2 separate regions of the Homo sapiens genome follow, and region 2 is linked to region 1. Evidence: fine-mapped expression QTL. A gene starts in region 1. The other region holds a variant in brackets. All regions are shown on one strand. Distances are between the middles of the regions.

Evidence for each region. PIP is the estimated chance that this variant, and not a neighbour inherited with it, causes the effect.
Region 2: its variant is fine-mapped to the expression of VAMP1 in whole blood (TOPMed, PIP above 0.99).

The regions. Positions count from the first base shown.
Region 1 is chr12:6,466,665-6,482,552 of GRCh38, reverse strand. VAMP1 (vesicle associated membrane protein 1) reads left to right here and starts at 11,876. Exons shown (of 5, transcript NM_014231.5): 1 at 11,876-12,023. The coding sequence starts at 12,022. It also overlaps a transcript of TAPBPL not described here and the pseudogene PKP2P1. RefSeq lists silencers at 11,325-11,584, 11,795-11,844, 12,345-12,394.
Region 2 is chr12:6,418,182-6,434,069 of GRCh38, reverse strand. No RefSeq gene overlaps it. Among named protein-coding and RNA genes, the nearest start is that of CD27, 19 kb to the left of the region's middle. RefSeq lists enhancers at 6,853-7,092, 7,133-7,242, 10,554-10,603. The variant C/G (reference allele first, on the strand shown) is at 8,287.

The DNA.
Region 1 (15,888 bases):
GTGATTATTTACAGATAATTTGATTGTCATTGACTAAAACAGACAGGAATTTTTTTTTTTTTTAGACGGAGTCTCACTCTGTCCCCCAGGCTGGAGTGCAATGACATGATCTAGGCTCACTGCAACCTCCGCCTCCCGGGTTCAAGTGATTCCCCTGCCTCAGCCTCCCGAGTAGCTGGGACTACAGGTGCGTGCCACCACGCCCGATTAATTTTTTGTATTTTAGTAGAGACAGGGTTTCACCATGTTGGTCAGGCTGGTCTCCAACTCCTGACCTCGTGATCTGCCCACCTCGGACTTCCAAAGTGCTGGGATTACAAGCGTGAGCCACCGTGCCCAGTCCAGATAGGAATCTTTTTTTTTTTTGTCTCCTTTTGTATTTAATATTATTGAAGACTCTATTAATGTCTTAAAAAACACAAAAAGTTCTTGAACATACATTTATTATCTGGAGGAATGAATGCACTCCAAATGCTTATTATCAGAACTCTGGAAAAAGACATATAAATTCTCTCCAGTATTTTAAAAATTGGTATCTAAATTTCATTTTGAACTAGGTTAGTTACCTAAGCTATCTTCATTCAGCTTTTAAAACTGAAAAAAAATTTAAGTTTCAAATATAATAAAGACTTAAGTACATATTCAACATTTATTTTCTATTACACTTTTCTGGCCAAAAGGAGTTGAAGAGTTTTTTTCCTTATCTTACTTATGACAAACGTTGTCAGATTTAAAAAAAAAAAAACAAAATATAACAGAATAGTAGTTGTGAAGACTAACTCTATATGAATGGTTTTAATCATAATGCAGTTAAAATAACATTTAATATAGATTCATTTCACTGGATGATGTCACCTTTTAAAACACCAGTATTTCTCATATCATTTCTGTATGGTCTTGACACATTCTTATATCTTCTTCAACATGACTTCTTCACTTTTTTCTCTAGAGTTTTCTTGAATTAAAATAATGGCTTGAAGAAGATCATATGAGATTTAGTGGCCCTGTGATATTTCTTAAATGCTGGGCAAAGCTGGTTGATAATGTAACTCATTAAAATGAGCTGTATTTTCAGTGCCCCAGGCTGGCCGGGCAGTCTGATAGAAGGCCTTAGTTCCTCTTGCAGATAAAGACTAGAGTCCATTCTTCCACTAGTCCAGGGCAGTGGCCTAAAAAATACAGAAGGCCCGGTGCGGTGGCTCACACCTATAATCCCAGCACTTTGGGAGGCTGAGCCGGGCGGATCATGAGGTCAGGAGTTCAAGACCAGCCTGACCAACATGGTGAAACCCTGTCTCTACTAAAAATACAAAAAAATTAGCCAGGCGTGGTGGTGCACGCCTGTAATCCCAGCTACTCAGGAGGCTGAGGCAGGAGAATCACTTGAACCAGGGAGGCGGAGGTTGCAGTGAGCCAAGATTGCACCACTGCACTCCAGCCTGAGCTCCGTCTAAAAAAAAAAAAAAAAAAAAATGTCCAGGAAAGGCATTACACGGAATGCCATTGTTTAGAAGAGATTTGGATTTAATGGTGTTGTTATAGGTAAAGTATTTCCGGAGCAAAAATCTCATTCATTCAGTGTTTGGGGGAAGGTTAAACTTTATAATCACAGTTGCCTTTCTCTGGGGAAAAGATTTATTTTTATTTTTATTTATTTTACTTTAAGTTTTGGGAGAAAAAGGTTTCTTTAATTTGCTATGATCACTTCCTCTCAATTTCTTTTTCTTACAGTCATGCATACTCTGTAATCTAAATTTCTTAAGTTTATTTAAAAATCAGAGGAAAAAAACCTAAGGAGATAAAAACGAGCACAAAGTAAACAAAGAAACAAATAATTTTGCCATTATACTTTCTCCTGGATAACTGCAGATATTTCTTGTCATTTCCATTCTGTTTCAACACTACAGAACAATATACTCATGGCCCAATGGTGAAGCAATGTGCACATGAGTGACAAAACATGGGAACTAGAAAAGGAATATAAATGTAAATCAAGCTTTTAAAATCCCAGTAATGCAACAACTTCTTTCCTTATTTATTGGATCAAAGTCCATTCCACATGAATTCACATTTTGGTTCCAGGAGGCCATGCACCATAAGCCCTAATAACAAAGACCACTATTTGTAGAGCCTGTGACCAGTATCTACTGGTGGCAAGCTTGCAAAAGTCTTCTGGAAGACTCATAAGATTATGTTGTACTTGTTTTCTGGATTCGGGGGACCATGGAAATAGAAAATGATAGAAACGAGGCATGCTTTTGAGGTTTCTTGGGCTGGGTAGTAGAAAAATAGGTGTTTTCCTGTGGGATTTTTTTGCAGCTGAGAATACTTCGTCATTTTCCTCAGTCTTTAAGGGAGTGGTAGGCTTTGACAGTCCAGCTGTTGACAAAATCTGTCTTCTTAAACTGAGCCTTCTTGTAGGCATGATGGAGTTCCGTGTGTGCCTACAGAGAATACAGGAGGATGGAAGCAGCTTTACTTGCTTTGTTGGAGGCATAGGCATCGCCTGCACTGATGGTCATAATTTTCTGGATGCCCCCGGTATTCGGAAGGCGCTGTGCATTCTGGTAACTGTTTTGGATTACGTTGTTCAACATGTAACAGGCAGAGGCTGTAGTTTCAATGAGAAGGTCAGTACTCGGGACTGTATCAGGAATGATGGAGACCAAACTGGGGAGAGTTTCTTTGGCAATTTTATTCTGCAGAGAAAGATTCTGGGACAGATTCCTCAGCAGCAAGTTGGCTGTCTTTTTCACACTTGGGTCACTGACATGCACCATCTTTCGGGTGTGCTGCAGGCCATTTTCCTTCTGGACGACTGTCTGAGCCACTGATGTCGGCATTGGTCCACTTCCGGCTGTGAGGTTCTGGAGAGCGCCTAAGGAGGCTTCCTGTGTGTAGTTTGGGACACTCTTGGCGATCAAGGACAGATACATCCTTATCACAATGGAGTGTCACAGCCACTCCACGCCCTTGGGGTTGCTCTTTTCCTCTGGCATCGGCATGTCCTAGTATTGCTCTTTTAGTTTCCTGCTTCGACTGCCAAAACATCCAATACTTTTGTTGTTAGTCTGGACATTTGGGTTTTGAATATAGATATTCTGGGAATATTTCTCTGGGAGCTCTACCTCCAGCTGGTAGGAGAGGTTATGAAGAATGTGCACACAATTCTCCGTGGCCTTGTCATCTGGCTGGTAATCCGCAATGGTTCCTCTGACATAATGGACCAGTGAGTCAATGAGTCGGTCACATCTTCTCATTGCTTTTCTCCTATCAGGGCCAGCAGCACTCATGTTTCTTAGACATCCAGTGGGTTGTAGACTGTGTCAAAATCGAGCAAACCATTCGCTTTTGGGTAGTCTCCTTCAGGCCATCCAGAAAAGGAGATGATTATATTCTCGGTCAGCATAAGCAATGCTTCTGTTATCATGAGATTCTTGAGTTTGTCATTAGATGACAAATTCCACAGCAAACCTGTTAGTTGTTTTTTAGTCTCCAAGACTCTGGTTTGCTTCAGCACCTGGAGCAGCCGAGTTACCCCATTTAGTTCAGCCACCTCCAATTTGTTGTCATTGTCTTCAAATAGTAAGTTTCTCAAGGCCCCCCACACAGCTCGCTGAACATCTTCATTCTGAACTTTTAGGAGCTGCAGAAGCTTGGGGATGCCACAAAACTGGTTAACCCTCTTCCCAGCTTCAGATTTCTGGAAGCACTCGTGCTGTATGAAAGTGGCTGCGGCAGAAATCCTGGACGGCGGCATCTGGTCTGCATCGAGCATACTCCCTGCTCGCTCCAGAGTCATCTCCATGTCTGCATTCCCCAGCTGGGAGTCAGTGCTTCTCTGGGTGAGAAGATTCCCACTTCCCCCTGCCGCTGCCTGGCCGACGGTCAAGTGCGCTCTCCTCCCGCTGGAATCCACGGCAACACTGGGCCCAGCTTTCCTCGGTGTGCGGGTGCTGTGGAAGGAGCTCCGGTGCCAGGAGGACCTGGAAGCCCTGTTCTGAGTGAGGGGCCGCAGGGGCACCAGCGGCCTGACCTGGCCGACGGTGAGCCCTGCCCTCAGGTAGTTCTCTTTCTCCAAGAGGTTGCCCATGCTGCGGCTGGTCCCTGGCCTGGGGTACGTGAGCAGGGCCGGGTTGGCAGGGATGCTGTCAAAAACGGTGTCACTAACAGAGCCACGCTGGTACTGCCTGTGGTGTCAAAGTGGTGCTGCCTGCTTGTGGTGCCAGTACGGCGGACCCCCGCGATCTCAGAACGATCATATCTCGGTGGCACCAGGAAGGCGGCCCGCCTGCTTTCTTGGTGGTGCAGGGTGTGCCCAGCCTGGCTTCTCTGGCTGTACTGGTAATCGCTGTGCGTGTAGTGAGCCCTCTCCGGGCTGCTGTCAGGAGAAATCTCCAGTCTCCTCAGAGGATGCCTCAAATACCTTTCTTCCACGGACTTCTGGGAGCTGTACTGTGCTGTTCCTCTTCCCCAGCGACCTTCATAAGTGGCAGTTGTGCCAGCCTTTAGCATGTAATAGGTTTTAGGAACAGGGGAACGGCCTCCAACAAAATCATTTTCAACCAAGTGTAGGTTGTAGACATACTCAGGAACACTGCTGGTTCGGTGAAGATTTCCGTTGCCCACGGAGCTGCGGCCCTTCCGGGCGAGGATCTGCTGCACCTGCTCCTGGATCCGCAGGCTCTTGACTGGCTGCCGCGGCCGCTGCTCCCAGCCAGCTTCAGCTTGGCCTCAGAGGGCAGCGCCAGGCTGGAGCTGTCCAGTTGTCCCAGGATCTGCTGGCCCAAGATGGTCCGGATGTAGCCGTACTCAGCTGGGGCCCCGGGGGCTGCCATGGGGCCGGTGGGGGCGACCCAGCCGCTCGCTTGCCTTGGGACTCGCGGGTGAAGCCGCCGCAGAGCTGGGGGCTCTCCAGATAGGAATCTTAAAAAATACAGAAGGCCAGGCATGGTGGTTCACGCCTGTAATCCCAGCACTTTGGGAGGCCAAGGCAGTCGAATCACGAGGTCAAGAGATCCAGACTATCCTGGCCAACACGGTGAAACCCCGTCTCTACTAAAAATACAAAAAATTAGCTGGGCGTGGTGGCGCACGCCTGTAGTCCCAGCTACTTGGTCGGCTGAGGCAGGAGAATCGCTTGAACCTGGGAGGCAGAGGTTGCAGTGAGCCGAGATTGCATGACTGCACTCCAGCCTGGCGACAGAGCAAGACTCTGTCTCAAAAAAAAAAAAAAAAAAATCAGATGCGCATATTTGTAGGGGTCTATTTCTGCATTCTCTCATCGGTGCCATCGATCTATGTGTCTGTCCTCCCACCAATACCACACTGTCTTGATTACTGCAACTATATAGTAGTAAGCATGAGATAGTTATTCCTCCTATTTTATTCTTCTTTGTTCTTCTATAGATAAAATCTATTTATGAGTTGGCCTGAGAGTAAAGACTATTTAAACACGAAAAACTAAGTGAAAGCCAGTAACCAGGGAAGTTGCTGAGTCCCAAAGACTATTTTGCTCTGAGGGTATTTGCTATAAAGTTTAATATGAGCGTAGCAGCCTCACAGGCTACCACTGTGGCACAGGAAATAAAGCCCAGGGCTTACCCAAGGTTGGAAATCTAATAGAAAGTCCTTACCATAAAGTCAGAACCCCAAAGGACTATATCCTCATCTAAGAATGAATTACGAATATACTAGAACCCAAACTGCCCCAGAGCACTCCGTGGAATGTTGTTTGTCTGGAACCCAGGTGCCTGCTGGAGTTCTTTTATTTTTTTCTTTTAAGTATTTGCAGAGAATGTATAACCACAGGCTGTGGTGTTTCTGCCTGAACTCTTTGTTGATCCTAAAAAGAAAATGGCAAGAATTTAAAGTGGTTTTGGATTGACAGTACCACCAAGAACCCAGCAGAAGCAATGCAGATCCTTTCTGGATGAACTCATCTTTAATCTAGGCCTCGGGGAATTTCCACAGATACAGTTCCAAGAAAAATAAATTGTGGTCAAAAATTCCAAACAAATAAGGAACAAGGCACCAAGAACAAGAACCAGCAGAGATGGAGACAGGAAATAAGAAAGATAATTAGAAAATTAAGCCAAATAGTCCAATATCTAATTAATAGTCCGATGTCTAAAAAGAGAAAACAGGATATGTGAGGGAGAGGGAGAAAAAAGGGTGTGTGTGAGATTGATTTTAAAAGAAATACAAGACTCGCGCCTGTAATCCCGCACTTTGGGAGGCTGAGGCTGGCAGATCATCTGAGGTCAGGAGTTCGAGATCAGCCTGGCCAATATGGTGAAACCCCGTCTCTACTAAAAATACAAAAATTAGCCAGGCATGGTGGCAGGCGCCCGTAGTACCAGCTACTCAGAAGGCCTCGCGAGGTGCCGGGATTGCAGACCAAGTCTTGTTCACTCAGTGCTCAATGTTGCCCAGGCTGGAGTGCAGTGGCATGATCTCGGCTAGCTACAACCTCCACCTCCCAGCCGCCTGCCTTGGCCTCCCAAAGTGCCGAGATTGCAGCCTCTGCCCAGCCGCCACCCCGTCTGGGAAGTGAGGAGCGTCTCCGCCTGGCCGCCCATCGTCTGGGATGTGAGGAGCCCCTCTGCCCGGCTGCCCAGTCTGGGAAGTGAGGAGCACCTCTTCCCGGCCGCCATCCCGTCTAGGAAGTGAGGAGCGTCTCTGCCCGGCCGCCCATCGTCTGAGATTTGGGGAGCGCCTCTGCCTGGCCGTGACCCCGTCTAGGAGGTGAGGAGCGTCTCTGCCTGGCTGCCCCGTCTGAGAAGTGAGGAGCCCCTCCGCCCGGCAGCTGCCCCATCTGAGAAGTGAGGAGCCCCTCCGCCCGGCAGCCACCCTGTCTGAGAAGTGAGGAGCGTCTCCGCCTGGCCGCCCATCATCTGGGATGTGAGGAGCCCCTCTGCCCGGCTGCCCAGTCTGGGAAGTGAGGAGCACCTCTTCCCGGCCGCCATCCCGTCTAGGAAGTGAGGAGCGTCTCTGCCCGGCCGCCCATCGTCTGAGATGTGGGGAGCGCCTCTGCCCGCCCGTGACCCCGTCTAGGAGGTGAGGAGCGTCTCTGCCTGGCAGCCACCCCGTCCGGGAGGGAGGTGGGGGGTCAGCCCCCGCCCGGCCAGCCGCCCCGTCCGGGAGGGAGGTGGGGGTCGCCTCTGCCCGGCCACCCCTTCTGGGAAGTGAGGAGCCCCTCTACCCGGCCACCACCCCGTCTGGGAGGTGTACCCAACAACTCATTGAGAACGGGCCATTATGACGATGGCGGTTTTGTGGAATAGAAAAGGGGGAAAGGTGGGGAAAAGATAGAGAAATCAGATTGTTGCTGTGTCTGTGTAGAAAGAAGTAGACTTGGGAGACTTCATTTTGTTCTGTACTGGGAGGGGTTCTTCTGCCTTGGGATGCTGTTGAGCTGTGACCTTGCCCCCAGCCCTGTGCTCTCTGCGGCCTGTGCTGTGTCCACTCAGGGTTAAATGGATTAAGGGCGGTGCAAGATGTGCTTTGTTAAACAGATGCTTGAAGGCAGCATGCTCCTTAAGAGTCATCACCACTTCCTAATCTCAAGTACCCAGGGACACAAACACTGCGGAAGGCCGCAGGGTCCTCTGCCTAGGAAAACCAGAGACCTTTGTTCACTTGTTTATCTGCTGACCTTCCCTCCACTATTGTCCTATGACCCTGCCAAATTCCCCTCTGCGAGAAACACCCAAGAATGATCAATAAAAAAAAAAAGAAAATGGCCAAAAGACATGAACCAACATTTCATCAAATAGGATAATATATACAAGGCAAACACTTTAAAAGATATTTGATATCATTAGCCATCAGTGAAATAAGAATTAAAACCACAATGATAGCACTGAACACATATTAGAATGGTTAAAATAAGAAAAATACAGCTGGGCATGATGCCTATAGTCCTAGCTACTTGGGAAGCTGAAGTGGGAGAATTGCTTGAGCTCAGGAGTTTAAGACCAGCCTGGGCAACACAGGCAAAGGCAGTTTCTTATAAAACTAGAGATGCAATTACCTTACTGCCCAAGCATTGCACTCAGGCATTTATCCCAGAGAAATGAGAATTTATGTTCACACAAAACCTGTATGAAAGTTCACAGCAACTTTATTTGTAATAGCCCAGTGCTGAAATCACTCCAAATGTCCTTCAGCAGGTAAATGGTTAAATGTACCACGGAATATTAATCAGTGGTGAAAACTAATGATACACACAATAACTTGGATGGTTGAAAAAGTAATGATACACACAATAACTTGGATGAATGAAAAAAGCCAATCTTGAAAGGTTACGTGATATAGAAAAAAGCATGACTACATTTACATAAGGCTCTTGAAATAAAGTTACAGAGATGGAGAACAAATTAGTGTTGCTAAGGTTTAGGGATGGCGGTGGGTTGGAATATAAAGGGGTAGCACATGGGAGCCTTGCAGTAATGTGAAAATGCTGTATCCTAACTGTGGTTGTGGTTACACAAATCTACACATGATACAATTGCATAAAACCACTCAAACACACACGAACACAAAAAGAAGTGTTTGGTGGTACATGCCAGTTTGGAAAATCGGTGAAATTTGAATAAACTCTGGATTTTGCTAATGATAATTTCCTGGTTTTAATATTTTAATAATTTTAAACTGTATTTATACAAGATGTTACTGTTGGGGGAACTGGGTAAAGGGGTTTAGGGGAACCTCCCTGTATTGTATTTTTTTTTTTTGGCCACCTTATATGAATCTATAATTACTTTAAAATAAAAAGTTTAAGGCCGGGCGCGGTGGCTCACGCCTGTAATCCCAGCACTTTGGGAAGCCGAGGCGGGTGGATCATGAGGTCAGGAGATCGAGACCATCCTGGCTAACACTGTGAAACCCTGTCTCTACTAAAAATACAAAAAATTAGCCGGGCGTGGTGGCGGGTGCCTGTAGTCCCAGCTACTCAGGAGGCTGAGGCAGGAGAATGGCGTGAACCCAGGAGGTGGGGCTTGCAGTGAACCGAGATAGCGCCACTGCACTCCAGCGTGGGCGACAGAGGGAGACTCCGTCTCAAAAAAAAAAAAAAAAAGTTTAAAAAATGCCACCCCCTCAACCCCGTTTTTTTGAGACAGGGTCTCACTCTGTTGCCCAGGTTGGAGTGCAATGGTGTGATCATGGCTCACTGCTTTCTTGACCTCCTCAGGCTCAGGTAATCCTCCCACCTCAGCCTCCCAAGTAGTTGGAACTACAGGTGTGTGCCACAATACCCAGCTATATTTTTTTGTATCTATTTCTTGTAGAGACAGGATTTCACCATGTTGTCCAGGCTAGTCTTGAACTCCTGGGCTCAAGTGATCCTCCTGCTTTGGCCTCCCAAAATGCTGGGATTATAGGCGTGAGTCACCATTCAATGATTTTAAGTTTTTTTTCAGGGGAAAGTTGGTGGGAATAAATAGGCATTCATGCTGCCAGAAATATTTCCTCCCATTCTTTTTTCTTTTCTTTTTCTTTCTTTCTTTCTTTTTTTTTTTTTTTTTGAGACAGTCTCATTCTGTTGCCCAGGTTGGAGTGCAGTGGCAAGATCTCGGCTTACTGCAGCCTCCGCCTCCCGGGTTCAAGTGATCCTCCTGCCTCAGTCTCCCGAGTAGCTGGGACTACAGGCGTCCATGCCCAGCTAATTTTTGTATTTTTAGTAGAGACGGGATTTTGCTGCGTTAGCCAGGTTGGTCTTGAACTCCTGGCTTCAAGTGATCCGCCCTCCTTGGCCTCCCACATTGCTGGGATTACAGGTGTGAGTTACTGCGCCTGGCCCTTTTTCTTTTCTTTTGGAGATAGGGTCTCATTTTGTCACCCAGGTGGGAGTGCAGTGGCGTGATCTCGGCTCACTGCAACCGGAACATCTGGGCTCAAGCTGTCCTTCCGCCTCAGCCCCCCAAATAGCTGGGACTACGGGAGTGAGCCACCACGCCCGGCCCCATTCTTTTTGTCTTTGGGGGCTTATAATTTTTTGCAAATTTTCCCAAATTGTCATTTTTCCCCCTAACTTGCCATTTTGATGTGGTTTCAGGAGGAGAATGGGATAAACACATATGATGAATGCATTATGTTTCCAAGTGCAATTGTTTCCTTAAGAAGACTTGTGACATTTGGATAGATAACTTTGGTGGACTTTTTAGAGAATAGATGTAAAGGATGGCAAGACTGGAAGCAGAATGATGTATCATTGATCTTAGGAGGCACTTGGGTTTTTTGTGTGTGCTTGTTTGTTTGTTTTTTTGCATTTCAATATCTTCTAATTGGGATGTTTCACTTTAGCTATTAGTCAGACAGCAGTCAAACTATATTTGTCATACCTGCTCATGAGCATCAAAGCTTGCCAAATGGGTGTCTGAGGCTTGGAAGAAAACTCTAGAGCCTGGAGAGGAACACTCTTAGGAAATGCTGCATCACCAAAGCCCTTATGAAATGCACAGAGGACTACATTGCGTGGAAATTAGTGGACATCCAAGACTGAGTCAAAAAAGTGAATCATTAACAATCAGTCTCTGTGAAGTTTTAGGGATAGTTACCATGTTATTGTTTTCTATTTCCCTTTTTATGCATGCACAAGAGTGAAATATAGAAATCGGTATGTATATAAACCCATATTTTCAATACATGTAAAACAAAAATGCTAAGTGGTAAGGAAAGCATTTGTCACAGATAATTTGCAACCTTTTTTCTTTTTTTTTTTGAAACAGGGTCTTGCTCTGTTGCCCAGGCTGGAGTGCAGTGGCGTGATCTCGGCTCACTGCAACCGTCGGCTCCCGGCTTCAAGCGATTCTCTTATCTCAGCCTCACGAGTAGCTGGGATTACAGGCGCCCGCCACCATGCCTGGCTGTTTTGTATTTTTAGTAGAGACAGAGGTTTCGCCATGTTGGCCAGGCTGGTCTCGAACTCCTGATCTCAGGTAATCTGCCTGACTCGGCCTCCCAAAGTGCTGGGATTACAGGTGTGAGCCACTGCGCCCGGCCTTGTAACCTTTTTTCTTAGCGGGACATAAAATAATGGTGAATTTTCCAACTGATGGAGTCCAGGAAAGGGATAATAGTGAGCAGAGGGGAGATAATCACTGGAATGCCAAGAAGGAAAAATCAACTCGATTTGGCAGATTACTGGGGGAGAGGTAAAGGTGAAGGGGAGGAAATCTAGGATGGTTTCCACGTTTCTGGTCTGGGCAACTGAGTCGATGTGGTAACCTCGACTGGAGCAGGTTTGGGAGGGAGTTCAATTTAGGAAGGCTATGTTGAAAGAAACGAATGAACGAAAGCTTCGTGCTTGCTTTGGTGGGACGGAACCCCGCATCCGGTATCTGGCACCAGGAGCTTGTGGCTGTGTCTCGAGGCTCCTGCACCCTCTCAGAGCGTTAGTTAGAGGCGGGGCGGTGGTGCGGAGCGAGGGCCAGAGCAGGGCACCAGGGCTGGGCGCGCACCAGGAAGCCGCCGCCTCCAGCTGAATGCGCGAGTCCCGGCGCGGGGTGGGGCAGGGGCGGGCACGGTCTTCAGTAACTGCCTAGCGATTGGTTGGGAGGCACCACAAATGCCTAACAAACTGCTGAAGCGCCCTCCGAAGGGACAGACCTCATCTCCACCCCGCCCCGTCCCTCCGCCAGACTGGAGCGCAAACTATGGTCGCATTGATCACTGAAGGATCCTCACAGCAACCGCTCCTTTCCGGAGTCGGATGAGAGGAGAGTTGTGACTGGCAATTGGCAGGGGCGGGGCGGGCTAGGCCTGTAGCGCTGGGCGACCGTCCTGGGCATGGATTGGGCCGCGGGGTTGTCACCGTTATCCGGGAGGCGTGGTCAGCACTAATAAAGGCGGAGGCCGGCGCGGCAGCTGCAGTAAGTTCCAGCGCAGCTAGACCGCGGGGTAGTCGGCGCGAGGCGGAGCTTGGCAGTTCCGTCCACTTCAGCCGCAGCGTCCCTCACCGGGTGTCTCGCCGCAGCCTCCGGAGAGGAACAGACCCTCACTCTCTCTGTCAGAAAAATGTGAGTTGACTCTGGTGTGGGGGCTCGGCACCTCCTTGACAACTCTCGCCCCAAGCTCCCGATTCTGCGGGACGGAAAATGGCGCAATGCAGCAGCTGCAGCAACGCGGGGAACTACCACCGCGCGCCGCTTCCGGACCGGGCCACCCCCAGGGAGGGGGGCCAGCACCCCATTCTCGCACCAGCCACAGCTAGCACCCCACGGGCGGGGCAGGGGCGCAGGGGTCCCACAATCATTGCACCCTCTCCTCTCGTCTGAGTGGCGCCTCATTCTGGTTTTGGTATAGTGGAGACTCGGAGAGGGCGGGGGCTGGGGGTGGTGGATGGAGACAACTGGGCAGGGGACTCGAAAGGTATTTCTGTCATCTGGCTAAATCACTACTCAGCGCCTCAGGAAAGACAGTCATGGGTGCAACTGCCAGTTGGTAACTTATGTTGCCCTACAATCTCTGGATTTGTTTACCCCTCACCCAAAGTGTGATGTCTAGCCCCCCTCATGGCAGTGAGCAAAGCTGCAGAAACTTATCTGCCAGTTCTCTGGCACCAGGTGAGCAGCTCAGAAAGACTCAAGGGGTAGTGGGATAGTGGCCTGTCATCCCAAGCGGCTGTTCATACCAAGGCCATTCGTATAGGAGATGTTTTTCTATCACCGAGTCTTACCAAATAGTTGGAGGAGAAATAGGGAGAGCTGAGCTTTCCCCCTTTCCTCCAACACACACAGTTTAGTCTCCAGCAGTCTTCAACATCACCCCCTTCGCATGATCTTGAGGGAAAACTACGGCTAAACAAACGAAGTACTTCTCTGTCAAGACCTCAATATGTCTAATACAGATTTTTCTTTCTGATTACTACCCTGGCCTGGTCCTAGATGTATTTATGTTGCTTCTCTAAGTGACAAAAAAGGGAAAGATTTACTTGTGTTACATAAGGGTTGTAATTATCCCTAGATATTTTACTGTTGAGTGTTTCCAACTCCCAACAAGTAGTAAGTGAAATTGGCCTTGCAAATACTTCATAGCCATTTCACTTTTTCTTTTTGATTTCTATGGTTTTAACCAGATATGAGTGTTCTATGCATTTTGGGCAAGCCGTAGAATTCCAGTTGTTTTCATTTTGGGGAGGGGGCTTCCAGATAGTATCTACGTGGGATGAACAGAAGGCAACAGAAAAATCGTGGTGGCTAGCGGGGCATCACGAGGTCTCTGACCTTAATCTTGTCATTGGTGCTACCATCCTGGACTGCTTCCAACACTGGCTGCTACCTACTCATTGAATTTTCTGCCTTAAGTCGAGAGCTAGATTGCTTAGCTAGCTCAGTGGCAGGACAAGAGTCTTGTGGCTCCCATGACTTTGTGTCTATCTTTGCTTTACCTCCTTTGCACCTTAGAGGGAAATGGAAAAGTGATTCTTCAAATGGGGAATGAGTCAGGTGTAATCTGCTACCATAGCCTCTCTGAGGAGTTATTCTCTATCTTTTTAGACTAAAAGAAATTCACTTAATCAAGGAGAATGAGCTTCTGGGTATTAGTTCTATTGTAATTAGTCAAATAATTTCCTTTTAGGTGACTTTGTGGTTTCATTTTTGTTGCATTTACTCTTGGACTGCTCCTGTGAAGTATGTTTGGTGAGATTCTGCTTCTGTTTGAGGAGTTCTTACTGTAATTTCTATTCTCCATCAAATTTGAGAGATCTCCCCCCTGCCTGTGGGTGCTTCCTTGGCCGAGAACATCTCATGACTTAGGTTATACTTCTGGGAATTCTTTAGGAGGTGAGTTTAGCCTCCATGTTTTGGGACATGGAGAGGAGTTTGTCTTGAAGACCACACACTAACTTTGAGTGGTACAGAATGAGAGAACATTCTCTGTGTGTATAGTACAGTAAACCAAGATCTCTCTTTGGGATGTAAGTAACCAAGGGAGTCATCTGAGACTGTCAAATCCAGAAAAGGAAGGGACAGAATGTCTATAATGCATGCACATTGAGGACAATTTCTAGCATTTTTGCTTCCTGTCTATGCTCTTGGAACAGTTTCCATAACTAATGTAATTGCTTTGGGCCCCAGATTCTATCTAAGTGAAACCCCCATTTTCTCTGCCAAAAACAAAGCAAACAAACAGTCCTGACTCACTCCACCTACATAGACTTTGCCTTTGGTGATTTTCCAAGCTGCCCTTATGGCAGCCCTGATTTCCTCATCTTGTGTGAAGCATAACCAATAACTGGGCATATAAACCAATAACCATAACCAATAACTTGAATATAAAAAGGGGTGAGCTGACAGACATTACAGTGTACAGCCTCCCTCCTGGCTCCCTTCACGGACTGGCATTGAGTGTCTGTGGCTTTTCCAGGCGCACGGTGCAAGCTACCAGTGGATCTACCATTCTGGGGTCTGGAGAATGGTGACCTTTTTCTCATAGCTCCACTAGGCAGTGTTCCAGTGGGGACTCTGTGTGGGGGCTCCAACCCCACATGTCCCTTCTGTACTACACTAGCAGAGGTTCTCCATGAGGGCCCTGCCCTTGCAGCAAACTTTTGCCTGGACATCCAGGCGTTTCCATACATCTTCTGAAGTCTAGACGGAGGTTCCCGAACCTCAGTTCTTGCCTTCTGTGCATCTGCAGGCTCAACACCATGTGGAAGCTGCCAAGGCTTGGGGCTTCCACCCTCTGAAGCCACGGCCCGAGCCCTGCATTGGCCCCTCTCAGCCACAGTGGGAGCGGCTGGGACACAGGGCACTAAGTCCCTAGGCTGCACACAGCATGGGGACCCTGGGCCTGGCCCACAAAATAACTTTTTCCTCCTGGGCCTCCAGGCCTGTGATGGGAGGGGCTGCTATGAAGGCTTCTGACATGGCCTGGAGACATTTTCCCCATGGTCTTAGGGGCTAACACTAGGTTCCTTGCTACTTATGCAAATTTCTGCAGCTGCCTTGAATTTCTTCTCAAAAAAATGGTTTTTTTCTTTAGTACTGCGTCTTTTCTTCTGCCAGATACCCTAAATTATCTCTCTCAAGTTCAAAGTTCCACAAATTTCTAGGGCAGGGGCAAAATGCTGCCAGTCTTTTTGCCAAAACATAACAAGAGTCACCTTTGCTTCAGTTCCCAACAAGTTCCTCATCTCCATCTGAGACCACCTCAGCCTGGACCTTATTGTTCATATCACTAACAGCATTTTTGTCAAAGCCATTCAACAAGTCTCTAGGAGGTTCCAAACTTTCCCGCATTTTCCTGTCTTCTTCTGAGCCCTCCAAACTGTTCCATCCTCTCCCTGTTAACCCAGTTCCAAAGTCGCTTCCACATTTTTGGGTATCTTTTCAGCAACACCCCACTCTACTGGTACCAATTTACTGTATTAGTCTGTTTTCATGCTGCTGATAAAGACATACCCAAGACTGGGAAGAAAAAGAGGTTTAATTGGACTTACAGTTCCACATGGCTGGGAAGGCCTCAGAATCATGGCGGCAGGTGAAAGGCACTTCTTACATGGCAGCAGCAAGAGAAAATGTGGAAGAAGCAAAAGCAGAAACCACTGATAAACCCATCAGATCTCATGAGACTTCGTCACTATCACCAGAATAGCACCGGAAAGATGGGCCCCATGATTCAGTTACCTCCCCTGAGTCCCTCCCACAACATGTGGGAATTCTGGGTGATACAATTGAAGTTGAGATTTGGGTGGGGACACAGCCAAACCATATCAGCGGGGAAATGCCATTTAGGACAAGGCTAGGCCATATGTCCCTGTAGCCATCATGGCAGAGGACTTGTTTGAGTTGAGTCAAAGGATAGCCCCAGATGAGATGTCTTGATGCCATCCTGGATGTCCCTGAACCCCATCCAAATGTTGTTGCAGAGTCTTTCATC
Region 2 (15,888 bases), 48 kb after region 1:
CCCAGGAGACATATGCAAAAATATTCAAGCACTACTGTTTGTAATTCCAAAAGAAAAAGCAAGCAAGCAAGCAAGCTGCTGTGGTGTCTCACACCTGTAATCCCAGCACTTTGAGAGATGGAGGCGGGCAGATGGCTTGAGCCCAGGAGTTTGAGACCAGCTTGGGCTACACGGCAAACCCCCATCTCTACTAAAAATACAAAAATTAGCCGGGCGTGGTGGCACATGCCTGTAGTCCCAGCTACTCTGGAGGCTGAGGCATAAGAATAGCTTGAACCTGAGAGGCGGAGGTTGCAATGAGCCGAGATCGCGCCACTGCAAAAGAAAGGAAGAAAAGAAAGGAGAAGGGAGGAAGGGAGGAAGGAAGGAAGGAAGGAAGGAAAAAGAAAGAGAAAGAAAGAAAGAAAGGAAGAAAGAAAGAAAGAGAAAGAAAGAAAGGAGGAAAAGAAGGGAGGGAAGGAGGGAGGAAGGAAGGAGAGAACGGTAGTTGGATAATAAATTGTTGTATATTCACCCAATGGAATGCTTTAGAGGAATGAATATGAACCACCTGCATGTAGCCATGTAGATTAATTTGCATGAATGTCAAAAATATAATATTGTACATCGTGAATGTACTTCATGCCCCCTGAATTATACATTTAAAAATAGTTTAAATGGTAAATTTTATGTATATTTTACCACAATATAAATAAATAAATAGATAGAAAAACATGTTAAGTGATAGTGCACAAACACACAGAAGCAAGGCATAGAAAAGTACATACGATTCCATTTATAAAGTTCAAAAACAGGCAAAATGAAGCAGTTTGCTGTTCAGGGTGCACACAGATGGTAGAACTAGAAAGGAAAGTGAGGAAGTGATAGACACAAGCCAGAGCTGCTTCCCCCGGTGAGGAGGGAAGGTGTGATCAGGGCGCTTCGAAGGTTCTACTAATCTTCTGATCTGAACGTGGGTTTTCAATGTGTTATTTTTATGTACTATTTTACATATCTTAGTTCACAATAAAAAGTACAAATTATATTTTAAAAATTGGAGGTGAAAATGAAAAAAAATGGAAAATTATAGAGAAGACTCAGGTTCCCTTTGATCAATCTCCTCCCCCAATCCCTGGTCCTCTCCCTACCTCCTTAGTGTAGGCACTGTTTTCAGATTATTGAGTATTCTTCCAGAACTTTCCTAGACAAAAAAGTTATGTGTGTTGTTGTGGGTGTTTTTTGTTTTTTGTTTTTGTTTTTGTTTTTTGACAGAGTCTCTGTTGCCAAGGCTGGAGTGCAGTGGCACATTCTCAGCTCACTGCAGTCTCCACCTCCTGGGTTCAAGTGATTCTCCTGCCTCAGCCACCCAAGCAGCTGGGACCACAGGTGTGCACACCCGGCTAATTTTTGTATTTTTAGTAGAGATGGGGTTTCACCATGTTGGCCAGGCTGGTCTTGAACTCCTGACCTCAATTGATCCAGCTGTCTCAGCCTCCCACAGTGCTGAGATTACAGGCATGAGCCACTGTGGTAGGCATATGTTTATGTTTTTAAAAATTATTTTCTTTCCTTCTTATTTTTTGAGGTGGAGTCTCGCTCTTGTTGTCCAGGCTGGAGTGCAATGGCATGATCTCGGCTCACTGCAACCTTCACCTCCTGGGTTCAAGCAATTCTCCCATCTCAGCCTCCCGAGTAGCTGAGATTATAGGCGCCCCCCACCACATCTGGCTAATTTTTATATTTTAGTAGACATAGGGTTTCACCATGTTGGTCAGGCTGGTCTTGAACTCCTGACCTCAGGTGATCCGCCCATCTCGGCCTCCTGAAGTGCTGGGATTATAGGCGTAAGCCACTATGCCCGGCCTGTTTGTTTGTTTGTTTGTTTTTGTTTTTGTTTTGAGACAGAGTCTCGCTCTGTCACCAGGTTGGAGTGCAATAGCATGATCTTGCCTCACCGCAACCTCCGCCTCCCAGGTTCAAGCGATTCTCCTGCATCAACCTCCCGAGTAGCTGGAATTACAGGTGCATGCCACCATGCCCAGCTAATTTTTGTATTTTTAGTAGAGATGGGGTTTTGCTATGTTGGCCAGGATGGTCTCGATCTCCTGACCTCGTGATCCACCTGCCTCAGCCTCCCAAAGTGCTGGGATTACAGGCGTGAGCCACCACGCCCGGCCAGCCTGTTTTAAAAAATTATTTTATTTTCTACTTAAAATGTTATTAAGCAATAATCAAATATTTCTTACTCTGATTTCTTGGCCCCACTCCTCCTGAGGATTCTCTGCTTGAATTTTTCAGAGCAAGGGCGACCCCTGTCTTAGGAGAGGTAGGAGAGTGCCTCATGGACAGCATCTGGTTGTTCCTTCTCCCTGGCAAGGGGCCTGCCTCTCTTTTTCATACCTGAGATGACCGACAGCAGTAACATCTGACTTTGTCTTTTCCTTTCTTATTTGGGGCATCGCAGGCTACCTATATTTGCTGAAGGAAATCTTACACAAAGCTGCGATAATTCTAGCACAGAGCAAGAAATAGAGCCTAAGGAACAAACCACCCATTTTCTCTCCACTCGGTAAAAAATTATCTCTGGGAAATGAAATAGCCCAAGTCTGGCAGTTCCATGTTCTTCTTCTTTTTGTGTTTTAGAGACAGCCTTGCTTACTCACCCAGGCTGGAGTGCAGTGGCACAATCATGGCTCACTGTAGCCTCGAATTCCTGGGCTCAAGAGATCTTTCTACCTCAGCCTCCAGAGTATCTAGGACCAGAGGTGCACACTACCACGCCTGACTGATTTTTAATTTTATGTAGAGACTGGGTCTCTTTATGTTTCTCAGGCTGGTCTCAAATTCCTGGCCTCAAGAAATCCTTCCACCCCAGCCTCTCAAAGTGCTGAGATTACAGGCATGAACCACTGCCCCTGGTCCATGTTCTTCTTATATTGCTTTTCTAAAGTACTTCTTTTTGCAGATAGAGAAAGGCTTGTTAACTGGCCTCATGACTCAGCCTGCCAGGCACAATTGTCCATCGGCCCCAGCACAGTTGTATTTTTGTGTTTGTTTTGTTCTTTCCATAAATGATATACAGTATGTATCCTACGATTTGCTTTTCGTGCTTTTAATCCAGTTATATGTCTTGGAGATCATTTCATTTTATACTTCTAGAACTACTCGTTTCGTTAAATAGAGAATGGATGTGCAGAGGCTTTTTAGCCATTCTCCTGGTTCCCGAATACTTAGGTTGTTCCCAACAATGCACTATCGTAAGTGGTGTTGCATAAACATCTCATACTTCGCTGTGCATGTGGGAGTGTCTCTCTAGAATAAGTGCGGGGCATCGGAATCGCTGAGTCACAGGGTGTGCACATTTTTCACTTTAACAGATGCTGGCGAGTTGCCCTCCAGAGTGGCCCTACCAATTCACACTCCCACCAGCAGTGGAATGATAGCACATATTTCCTCACGTCCTGCCAGGCTTTCGTATTAGCAAACTGTTTTTGAGCATCTCATTGGAGGAAAGTGCTGTCTCATTGTTTCAGTGTGCACTCTTCCCATTCCCGGGGAGGCTGAGCGTCTTTCCATGATCGCGCTGTTTGTGTTTCCTCTTTTGTGACCAAGGCCTTTTTACCCTTATGTCACCACCAGTGTTCTGAAGTCCACCCTTGGCTCTCCCCCACAGCAATCTTGTCCTCCAGACCCAACCTGCATTGCCTCTGCCAATCACAGGGGTGCCAAACATGGTATACACTTGCCATCTGCCCTGGGGGCTGAAAAAAGCCTCGTGGTGACAGGGGAGATCTCTGCTGTCCCTCCCTTACTAATGTCAGGGGACTTCAGACCTCCACAGAGGGTGTGTCCTTTACCTCACTTGTCACACGGCAGCTGGGACTTGCGTGACCCCTAAACTCCTTCTGCTTCAGCATTTGATGACCCCCCAAACTGCACTGACCTCCAGCCCAAACTGAAGGGATCCCTGGTGCCTGTTGACTTTTACTGAGATGAAATGAATCATTTTAATAATTTAAAAATGTACAATTCAGTGGCTAGACTTTTACTGAGATAAAATGAATCATTTTCATCATTTAAAAATGTGCAATTCAGTGCTTTTACTATATTCACAAAGATGTGCAAATATCACAGATACATTTCTATTTTTGAAAAAGTTATAACTACCCTAGTTGGTGTGAAGTGGTATCTTATTGTGGTTTTGATTTGTATTTCACTAAGACTAATGATGTTGAGAATCTTCTTATGTGCTCATCGCCATTTGTATATTTTCTTTGGAGAAATGTCTGTTCAAGTCCTTTGCCCGTGTTTAAATTAAATTATTTGTGTCTTTTGTTGCTGAGTTGCAAGAGTTTTTTTTTTTTTCTTTTTGATATTATGAATTCTAGACCTTACTAGATAAGTGATTTGAAAATATTTTCTCTGGCCCGGGGCGGGGGCTCACACCTGTAATTCCAGCACTTTGGGAGGCCGAGGCGGGCAGATCACGAGGTCAGGAGATCGAGACCATCCTGGCTAACACAGTGAAACCCCGTCTCTACTAAAAATTAAAAAAAAAAAAAAAAAAAATTTAGCCAGGCGTTGTGGCGGGCGCCTGTAGTCCCAGCTACTCGGGAGGCTGAGGCAGGAGCATGGTGTGGAACCCGGGAGGCAGAGTTTGCAGTGAGCCGAGATCGCACAACTGAACTCCAGCCTGGGCGATAGAGCGAGACTCCGTCTCAGAAAAAAAAAAAAAAAAATTTATCCCATACTGTGGGTTGTCTTTTTACCTTCTTAATAGTGCCCTTTGATGCATAAAAATTTCACATTTTGGGCCGGGCATGGTGGCTCATGCCTGTAATCCCAGCACTTTGGGAGGCCAAGGCGGGCGGATCACGAAGTCAGGAGATGGAGACCAGCCTGGCCAATATGCTGAAACCCCGTCTCTTAAAAATACAAAAAATTAGCCGGGCGTGGTGGCGGGCGCCTGTAGTCCCAGCTACTCGGGAGGCTGAGGCAGGAGAATGGCGTGAACCCAGGAGGCGGAGCTTGCAGTGAGCAGAGATCACGCCACTGCACTCCAGCCTGGGAGACAGAGCGAGACTCCGTCTCAAAAAAAAAAAAAAAAGTTTCACATTTTGATGAAGTCCAGTTTATCTACTGTTTCTTTTGTTGCCTGTGCTTTTGGCATCATATTTGAGAAACTGTTGCCGAATCCAAACTCATACAGATTTTCACTTATATTTCCCTCTAAGAGTTTTATAGTTTTAACTCTTAAATTTAGTTCTTTGATTTATTTTGAGTTAAATTTTTTATCTGGTTTTAGGTAGGGGTCCAACTTCATTCTTTTACTTGTGGATATGCAGTTGTCCTAGCACTGCTTCTTGAAAAGACTATTCTTTTCACACAGAATGGTCTTGGCACCCTTGCTGAAATTAATTGACAATAGATGTATGGGTTGATTTCTGGACTCTAAATTGTATTCCATTGATCTGTATGTCTGTCTTTAGGTCAATACCATGGTTTTGATTACTGTAGCTTTATAGTAAGTTTCGAAATTGGGACTTCAACTTCGTTCTTCTTTTTCAAAATTATTTTGGCTACTCTGTGTCCCTTGCATTTGCATGTGAATTTTAAGATCAGCTTGTCCATTTATGCAAAAAAGAAGGCAGTTAGAATTTCGATGGGGATTGCATAGAGTCTGTAGATGAAATTGGGAAATATTGTTACCTTCAGTCCATGAACACAGATGTCTTTCCATTTATTTAGGATTTCTTTAATGTCTTTCAACAATGTTTTCTAGTTTTCAGTGTATGAGTCTTGCACTTTCTTTGTTAAATGTATACCAAGTTTTTTTTTTTTTTTCTCGAGACAGAGTCTCACTCTGTTGTCCAGGCTGGAGTGCAGCGGCCCAATCTCAGCTCACTGCAGCCTCTGCTTCCCAGGTTCAAGCGATTCTGCAGCCTCAGCCTCCCGAGTAGCTGGGATTATAGGTGCCTGCCACCACGCCTGGCTAATTTTTTGTATTTTTAGTAGAGACAGGGTTTTATCATGTCGGCCAGTCTGGTCTCGAACTCTTGACCTCAGGTGATCCGCCTGCCTTGGCCTCCCAAAATGTGGGAATTACAGATGTGAGCCACCGCACCTGGCCAATGTATGCCTAAGTATTTATTCTTTTTGATGCTATTGTAAATTGAGTTGTTTTTCCTAATTTCATTTTTTTTTTTTTTTGAGATGGAGTTTCGCTCTTGTTGCCCAGGCTGGAGTGCAATGGCGCAGTCTCGGCTCATTGCAATCTCCACCTCCTGGGTTCAAGTGATTCTCCTGCCTCAGCCTCCTGAATAGCTGGGATTACAGGCATGCGCCACACATGCCCAGCTAATTTTGTGTTTTTAGTAGAGACTGGGTTTTACCATCATGGTTAGGCTGGTCTCAAACTCCTGACCTCAGGTGATCCCGCCTGCCTCGGCCTCCCAAAGTGCTAGGATTACAAGCATGAGCCACTGTGCCCGGCCCCTAATTTCAATTTCATTTTCTTTCTTTCTTTTTTTCTTCTTCTTTTTTTTTTTTTAGACAGTGTCTCGCTCTGTCACCCAGACTGAGTGGGGAGTGCAGTGGTGCAACCTCGGCTCACTGCAGCCTGCACTTCCCGGGTTCAAGTGATCCTCCCACTTCAGCCTCCCGAGTAGCTGGGACTACAGGTGCATGCCATCATGCCTGTCTACTTTTTGTATTTTTTTGAAGACATGTGGTTTTGCCATGTTGCCCAGGCTGGTCTGGAACTCCTGGGCTCAAGTGATCCACCCGCCTTGGACTCTCAAAATGATTACAGGTGTGAGCCACTGCGCCCAGCCCCGAATTTCATTTTCAAGTTGCTCTTTGCCCATGTAGCAGTTGACATTTGAAGAAGGCAGTTGTTTTCTCCAGAGTTGGAAGGTGGCACCTTGAGGTGTAGGCGTGTTGCTATGACACCCTGTGGGCCGTTGCTGGGGCTCTCTTGTGACTTTTCTGAAGTCACGGATGGAGAGTTTGACTCTGTGACACAAAGGGAAACATGTCTGACTAATCTTTCCCACACTCCCTTTGCCTCTGATGGCTCCCTCGGCTAGGAGAGGAGAGGAAGAGAGTGGGTTGGTGGGGCCTCACCCTTTATTACAGGTGCTTCCTCTGACCCTTCTCTTCTGCAGGATTTTTGGGGCAGCTACTGAAGGGACAGGCACTCCCAAAGGGCAAGGGCTGTGGCAGCCTTCTCTTTTACCCATAAGTTGGCCAGAATTGATGCTGTCTACTTGTTTTTTTTGTTTGTTTGTTTTGTTTTGTTTTTTGGGAGATGGAGCCTCCCTCTGTCACCCAGGCTGGAGTTCTCTCACCCAGGCTGGAGTGCAGTGGCGCGATCTTGGCTCACTGCAACTTCTGCCTCAGCCTTGGGTTCGGGTTCAAACAATTCTCATGCCTCAGCCTCCCAAGTAGCTGGGACCCCAGGCACACACCATCATCCCTGCTTAATTGTTTTGTATTTTTAGTAGAGATGGGGTTTCGCCGTGTTGGCCAGGCTGGTCTTGAACTCCTGGTCTCAAGTTATCTGCCCACCTCGGTCTTTCATTGTGCTAGGATTACAGGTGTGAGCCACCGCACCCGGCCTGATGCTCCCTACTTTGATGTGCATAGAGGAATGTTGCAGGCCACAGGCATAGGCAGGGTCCTGGTGGCTGGTGATGTCAGAGAAGCCTGGGGGGGAAGTCCAAGGATCAATCAGCTGGTGAAAATCTGAAGGAGCGGAGGATGATTCGAGTAAATCTGTGCTGCTTGGCCTGCGTCCAAGGCCGTCTCTCTGCTCAGTCACTTGCTGGCTGCCCAGTTGCTCAGGCTCCGTGGGTTTGTTTCCACTGTCACATGGGGATGCAGATGCTGGCCTCGGAGGGCGGGTGTGAGCAGCCATGTTTGGTAACTCGGGTGAATGCCCTGCTAGGACTTGATGCAGAAGAGGTGCCAGTCAGTGTTCACTGGAGTATGACTTGATCACCAGCAACTTCCTTCTTGACTGGGATAGGGCAACATGAGAGCTGAGAGTTCCTTAAGTGGGGCCGTGCTCAGAATGGAAGGGAAAGAGTGAAGAAATCTACTAGGAAGAGGTGTATGGGAGGCGTATGCGACAAATCTCACCTTTATGAGAGCTCAGCTAGTCAGTGGGAGCTTTAGGTTGAACGGTGTGGGTGCTTCTAGGGCTGAGGAGACCCCATCATATTTTCACGCCAAAGGAATGGGGTGGGCCGGATGGGGAGAGCTGCAAGAAGCAGGATGTTGCAAGTTTGTGTGGTTTGTTTGTTT[C/G]TTTTGTTTTGTGAGACAGGGTCTGGCTCTGTTGCCCAGGCTAGAGTGTAGTGGTGTGATCACGGCTCACTGTAGCCTCGAACTCCTCGCCTCAAGCAGTCCTCCCACCTCAGCCTCCCGAGTAGCTGGAACTACAGGCGCACGCCATGAAGCCCAGCTAGTTTTTGCATTTTTACTAGGGACAGGGTTTCACCAGGTTGTCCAGGCTGGTCTTGAACTCCTGGGCTCAAAGCGATCTGCCCGCCTCAGTCTTCCAAAGTGCTAGGATTACAGGCATGAGCCACCATGCCCGGCAATTATACATTTTAAATATTAATATAATAATGAGGCTAATCTATAATACTTCTATGTCAAATTGTTTAAAATTTTTTTAATTTTTTTTTCTGTAGTTTCATGCATTTCCTATTTAAGTATTAATATATGTCAGATTCTTTTAAGCATTACAAAAACTTTAAGTACCAAATGCATGCAGTGGTTAAAACCTGTTTGAAACTTAGCATGAGTTTGATTTGCTTCATCACTTTTGATTTTTATCAGTTAAGGTTTGACCAGAGAGTCAAAACCACTATGAGTGTTATGGAATAAGGAACTTATTTTAGAGATTAGACCTTAATCAATCATGGCAGCTGGGGAAGGAGTCTTTGGAGGCCTCCGTATCTGTGGTGGACCTGAGGTCACTATGGGTCAGTTGGGAGAAGCACTGGATGTGAAGTGGGGGCAGGGCAAAGGCCATCCGGAGCCTGCGTCTGTGCCTCACCACCACCCACCCCGATGGTATGGGTGTCTGCAGAAGGACCTAGCACTCCTTGCCACGGAGTTGCACTTGTGTGGCCAAGAATTAGAGAAGCTGAAGGAGGCGATCTGACGGGAGCTGGAAGAGCTGCCAGTCTGGCTGCCATCCGTGCAGACAAGGTGAGCCAGCAGATGACTGTCACCCCATGCTGGCCTCAGAGCACGACGGCCGCTCCTATTCTGTTTTCCTACCTCTCAAATCTTACATTTCTCTTGTGGCCAACCCTCACCCAGAACCATACAGGGATTAATTTCCAAGAAATATGGTTTCGTCTTAGCTAAGTTGAGAGGGTAAAAGCCATCATAAAGATTGATTCCAAACCTTCTTGGGGTTAAAAGAACACTCGTCCCCAAGGGGAACGGTTTTACTCAAGTGGGCAGTGTATGACCGTGATCTGTGATTACCGTCTCAGGAAGGCTAACCTTATTTATTTGCCAGATTTGAGGCTAGGAAGCCAGACTTGGGCCTGCGTACATCTATATAGTTCTCAGTTTAGTACAATGTTCCCTTAAATGTTTCAAACTACATTATAAATTTAATAGTTCTGAGTTTGTCTAAGTCTATACCCTTTTTAAAAATTAAAAAAATTTTTTCGCATTGACAACTAATCAAAAGAAGAGTCCATATGCTTCTGATGGGTTTAGATTTGCAACCTGCCTCCTGGGTCCAAATCGTACCCCCACTAGAGTATCTGGAAGTCTGGAATCTCCACCCTCAAGCTGCAGCCCTTCTTGGTGCCTCTTCCTTTTGGCCTGGCTACTGGATCCTTTCCTTATTCTTTCTGTCCGAGTAGGTCACCACTCCATAGCCATATGCATACCTCTGCAGGGCTCTGCTCACAACCCTGAAGTCATGCTCATGCCTGTGAGCACTGGACAGGATCCTGCACGGCCTCAGGAGGAACTCCAGGGAGTGGAGAACAGAAGCGCATGCCACGTTCACGCAGGGTCAGGATCTTACCCATCCAGGGCAGAGATTTTCCCCAGGGAGGAGGGATTACAGGTGCATATGCTGGCACCTGTAATCCCAGCTACTCAGGGTCACCTCTACGGGAGGGACTGAAGCCAGCAAGAACCATACACAAACTCTGTCCTAAAAGGAGCTGGTGAAGTCCCCTGGGGAAGGGGTAGAAGGGCCTTGGGGCCAGTTGCATAACTGGGACCTTCAAGCTGTGGCTCCCTGCCCAAGGAGCCTCTGCTATCCAGTCATGCGCTTGATTCCAATGGAGGCAGGAAGCGCGTCGTCCCATCTGTCTGGGCTTTGGGTGCCCTCTTGTGGCAGAATAGTGATTTCGCTCTTCACACTGTCTCACGTGGCCCTCTCAGGAGCCCAATTAGGGCTTCAAGGCTGTTATTTTGAAGATACGTTTATCGCAGCACTGTTTACAAGAGCAGGGATATGGAATCAACCTAGGGGCCCACCAATGGATGATTGTATAAAGAAAATGTGGCATATTTATACCATGGAATACTACTCAGCCATTAAAAAGAATGAAATTACATCTTTTGCAGCAATGTGGATGGAACCCTTAGAGGCCATTACCTTAAGTGAAATAATTCAGAGACAGAGTCAAATACTGCATGTTCTCATTTATAAGTGGGAGCTAAATAATGTGTGCACATGGACACAGAGAGTGCAATAGTAGACATTGGAGATTTGGAAAGGTGGGAGGGTGGGAGGTGGGTGAGGGATGAGAAATTTCCCAATGGGTACAATGTACACTATTCGGATCGTGGTTATACTAAAAGCCCAGACTCCACCACTACTCAATATATCCATGTAACAAAACTGCACTGTACTCCCTACATCTATAAAAAGAAAACAAAATGGGATTCTAACAGAAAAAAAAGGGACATAAGGGCAGAGGTGCCAGGCGTCGGGTATCCTCCCAGGGCTTCTCTTGTGTCAGCACAGCAGGCTGGGTTTCAGCAAGTTCAAAGAATTTGAGGAACCCCCTAAGGGAGGGCCACTGGTGGGGGCAGAGGGGTGATCCCAAGTACTCCTATCTGTGACTTGAAGAATCTATCTTTAACATAACCTAAAAGAATATACCAAAGGCTGGGCGTGGTGGCTCACGCCTGTAATCCCAATACTTTGGGAGGCTGAGGCTGGCGGATCACGAGGTCAAGAGATTGAGACCATCCTAGCCAACATGGTGAAACCCCATCTTTACTAAAAATACAAAAATTAGCTGGGCATGGTGGCAAGTGCCTATAGTCCCAGCTACTCGGGAGGCTGAGGCAGGAGAATCGCTTGAACCCGGAAGGCAGAGGTTGCAGTGAGCCGAGATTGCAGCACTGCACTCCAGCTTGGGTGATAGAGCGAGACTCCATCTCAAATAAAAAAAAAAAGAAAGAAAGAAAAAAAGAATGCACCAAAGTATGACCTGATCTTGTTTTCTTTTTAAAATTAAAATAGGGGCCGGGTGCGGTGGCTCACACCTGTAATCCCAGCACTTTGGGAGGCCGAGGCATGCGGATCACGAGGTCAGGAGATCGAGACCATCCTGGTCAACATGGTGAAACCTGTCTCTACTAAAAATACAAAAATTAGCTGGATGCGTTGGCACGTGCCTGTAATCCCAGCTACTTGGCAGGCTGAGGCAGGAGAATCGCTTAAACCCGGGAGGCAGAGGTTGCAGTGAGCTGAGATCATGGCATTGCACTCCAGCATGGGCAACAGAGCAAGAATCTGTCTCAAAATAAATAAATAAATAAATAAATAAAATTAAAAAATTAAAATAGGGACAGAGTCTTGCTATGTTGCCCATGCTGGTTCCAACTCCCCTGGCCTCAAGCAATCTTCCCACTTCAGCCTCCCAAAGTTCTAGGGTTACATGAGTGAGCCACCACGCCTGGTTATGATCTGAACATAAAAGCTCCTGTGGCTGGGTGCGGTGGCTCACGCCTGTATTCCCAGCACTTTGGGAGGCCAAGGTGAGTGGATTACCTGAGGTCAGGAGTTCAAGACCAGTCTGGCCAACATGGTGAAATCTTGTCTCTATTAAAAATTAGCTGGGCGTGGTGGCGGGCGCCTATAGTCCCAGCTACTCGGGAGGCTGAGGCAGGAGAATGGTGTGAACCCGGGAGGCGGAGTTTGCAGTGAGCCAAGATCACGCCACTGCACTCCAGCCTGAGCGACAGAGCGAGACTCCGTCTCAAAAAAAAAAAAAAAAAAAAAAAAAAAAAAAAAAATTAGCCAGGTGTAGTGGCAGGCGCCTGTGATTCCAGCTACTCGGGAGGCTGAGACAGGAGAATCGCTTGAACCTGGGAGGCAGAGGTTGCAGTGAGTCAAGATCGCGCCACCGCACTCCAGCCTGGGTGACAGAGTAAGACTCCATCTCAAAAAAAAGAAAGAAAGAAAGAAAGAAAGAAGGAAGGAAGGAAGGAAGGAGGGAAGGAAAATGCACATGCAGGCTGGGTGTGGTGGCTCACACCTGTAATCCCAGCACTTTGGGAGGCTGAGGCAGGCGGATCACTTGAGGCCATGAGTTCGAGACCAGCCTGGCCAACATGGCAAAAACCCATCTCTACTAAAAGTACAAAAATAAGCCGGGCATGGTGGCAAGCACCTGTAATCCCAGATACTGGGGAGGCTGAGGCAGGAGAATCGCTTGAACCCAGGAGGCAGAGGTTGCGGTGAGCAGAGATCACACCACTGCACTCCAGCCTGGGCGACAGAGCAAGACTCCATCTCAAACAAACAAACAAACAAACAACAACAACAAAAAAAATAGTGCACGCATGCATACGATATTGTGAATAGAATTTTAAGGAGTTTGTGAACTTTGGGGATGCATGAGCCCATATGGTTTGTAAAAGTTCCACTTCTAGATCTCTGGTCCTATTAGTTTCTCAGGGGCTTGAAGCCCTCAAACAGAATTGCTACTCTCTGAGGAGGTTGACAATGTCCACTTAAGGACAGCCTCTCTGGAGAGGAAGAAAGGACACAGGGTAAAATTTCTTCTCATCAGAGAAGTAACGTTAGCGTTAGCCTCAAAGATGCGTAAAGAGTTGCCTTGTGTCAAGAAACAGACGTTTCTTTTTTGAAAATATCCGAGAAAGACAAATAACAGAGATGGGTAATTTACATAATTTCAAGACAGAGATTGTCTCCAAATTGCCTAATTTGAGGAATCTGAATGAGATGAAAGACAAGACACTCTTTGGAAGGATTTCCTAAAGCAATTCTTCTTAAACTCTATTTTTGGCTGATCTCAGATGGTCTCTGAAAGTTTCCAGAGGCAAGGCAAAACATTTAAGAGCTTCCAAAAACTCATACCAAACTGCTTCTAGAAGAAAACTCAAACAAATTGATTCATGTTCTTTCAAGACACACCTTTAAAGGGATTTTCTTTTGGTGGGTATTGCTTATTTACTTAACTAATATTTACTTAATGCATACTGGAAAAGAGTATTTTAGAGTTGGCAGGAACTTCAGGCATCTTGTTCTGATTCCTTTATTCTCAGACAAGCAACATGAAAGCTAGAGAGGAAAACTGTCCCTCATTCTTTCAACAAGTTTATCAATCACTTCCTATGTGTTAGGAACTGGGCTTTGTATAAGAAATAAAAGAGGGCCGGGCGCAGTGGCCCACGCCTGTAATCCCAGCACTTTGGGAGGCCGAGGCAGGCGGATCACAAGGTCAGGAGTTGGAGACCAGCCTGACCAACACGGTGAAACCCCGTCTCTACTAAAAATACAAACATTAGCCGGGCGTGGTGGTGCATGCCTGTAATCCCAGCTACTCAGGAGACTGAGGCAGGAGAATCCCTTGAACCCGGGAGACGGAGGTTGCAGTGAGCCGAGATTGCGCCACTGCACTCCAGCCTGGGCAACAGAGTGAGACTGTCTCAAAAAAAAAAAAAAAAAAAAGGAAAAGAAATAAAAGATGAAAATACATTGAGGATAATCTCATGAGGTAAGGAGATATGTAGGGGAAACCACAATTCCTTTTTTTTTTTTTTTTTTGAGATGGGGGTCTCATTCTGTCACCAAGGCTGGAGAGCAGTGGCAAGATCTTGGCTCACTGCATCCTCTGCCTCTTGGGCTCAAGCGATCCTCCCACTTCAGCCTTCTGAGTAGCTGGGACCAAGTGCACCACCACGCCTGGCTAATTTTTTGTATTTTTGGTAGAGATGGCGTTCTGCCATGTTGCCCAGGCTGGTCTCGAACTCCTGGGCTCAAGTGATCTGCCCGTCCCAACCTCCCAAAGTGCTGGGATCACAAGCATGAGCCACGCACCTGGCCAAAAGCCACGATTCGAAAAAGATAATTGTTTTAATGGAGGCTGTTTAAAAAGCAGTGGAAGCTTAGCAGAGAAACCAGCGAAACCTGTGAGGGTATCTGAAGATGACTTCACGGAGGCGGTAGCAGCTGAGCTGTGGCTTGATGGATGAGGAGGGGTTTGCTGGGTGGACCAGCGTGTTTGCTCCAGGCTATGTTGAAATAGTATGCAGGTTGGTCAGGGCAGTATGGTGCCAGTCAAGGGATGAGTGGGGTCTGGAATCTAGCCTCACGAGGGGGATGTGGCACCTTTTCCTAATTTCCACAAAGGCACAATATGGGCTACCAGTCTTGAGAAGTGGGTGAGGGCATGCAAATGTAAAAAAGTAAGGTGTGTTCTGGGATCTACTAGTTCTTGAGAAGCACAAGTTCAGAACTGCTGAAGAACAGAGTGAGAGGTGATGAGTTTGCCCAGGTAATGGGGCCAGGTCATGAGAGGCTTTTCTATGACCGTGTGTAGTGGGCAGGTTGGGAATGGAACCTGGATGCCTTCCTTCCTGGCCGTTACTCTTCCTGTAGCACCAACTGCCCCTGGCCTGGACGCTGAGCTCTGTGCTGGGTGCTGGGCAGGATGCGGGGATGAATATGCATAGGCCTTGCCCTCAGGGGTTTATAACTAGGGGTTTATAATATGCAAGACCCATGGATTAATAGTGATAATAAAGTAGAATGTGATAAGTAGCCAAATAGAGGGACAAGGAGGAGTACTGGGCACACGCACAGTACCCGGAAGTGGTGGGCTCAAGGCCACACGCCATAAGCCAGGAATTCAAGGTCAGGTCTGTCTAGCCTCAAAGCCAACGTTCTCATAGGTTTCAAAGGCTTTAAAAGTGCTCACACTCTTTGACTTAGCATTTCCACTTCTAGGAGTCTATCCTAAGGAAATAAAATGTGTGCAAAGATTTAGTTACAAGGATGGTCTGTGAATTATTTTTCTTTTTTTTTTTTTTGAGACAGTCTCACTTTGTTACCCAGGCTTGAGTGCAGTAGCGTGATCTCAGCTCACTGCAAATTCTGCCTCCCAGGCTCAAGGGATCCTCCTGCCTCAGCTCCTTACAGGGATCCTAAGGGATCCCTGCCTTACAGGTGTCTGCCACTATGCCCAGCTAATTTTTTGTATTTTTAGTAGAGATGGGGTTTCACCATGTTGGCCAGGCTGGTCTTGAACTCCTGACCTCCAGTGATCTGCCTGCCTTGGCCTCCCAAAGTGCTGGGGTTATAGGCTTGAGCCACCACGCCCAGCCGTGGCTTATTTTTATCTAACTTCTTTTGCCCAACATAATGTTTTGAGATTCAGCCATGTCATTGTGTGTACCTGTGTGTTACTACAGCGGAATATAGTAGGTCACTATTGTATGAATAGACCACAATTAATTTATCCAGTCACCTGTTGATGGACATTTGGGTTGTTTCCAGTTTTTGACTATTATAAATAAAATCTGCTGTGAACATTCTTATACAAGTATTTTGGATATTTGTTTTTCTGTCTCTTGGATAAATACCTAGGAGTAGAATAGCTTGGT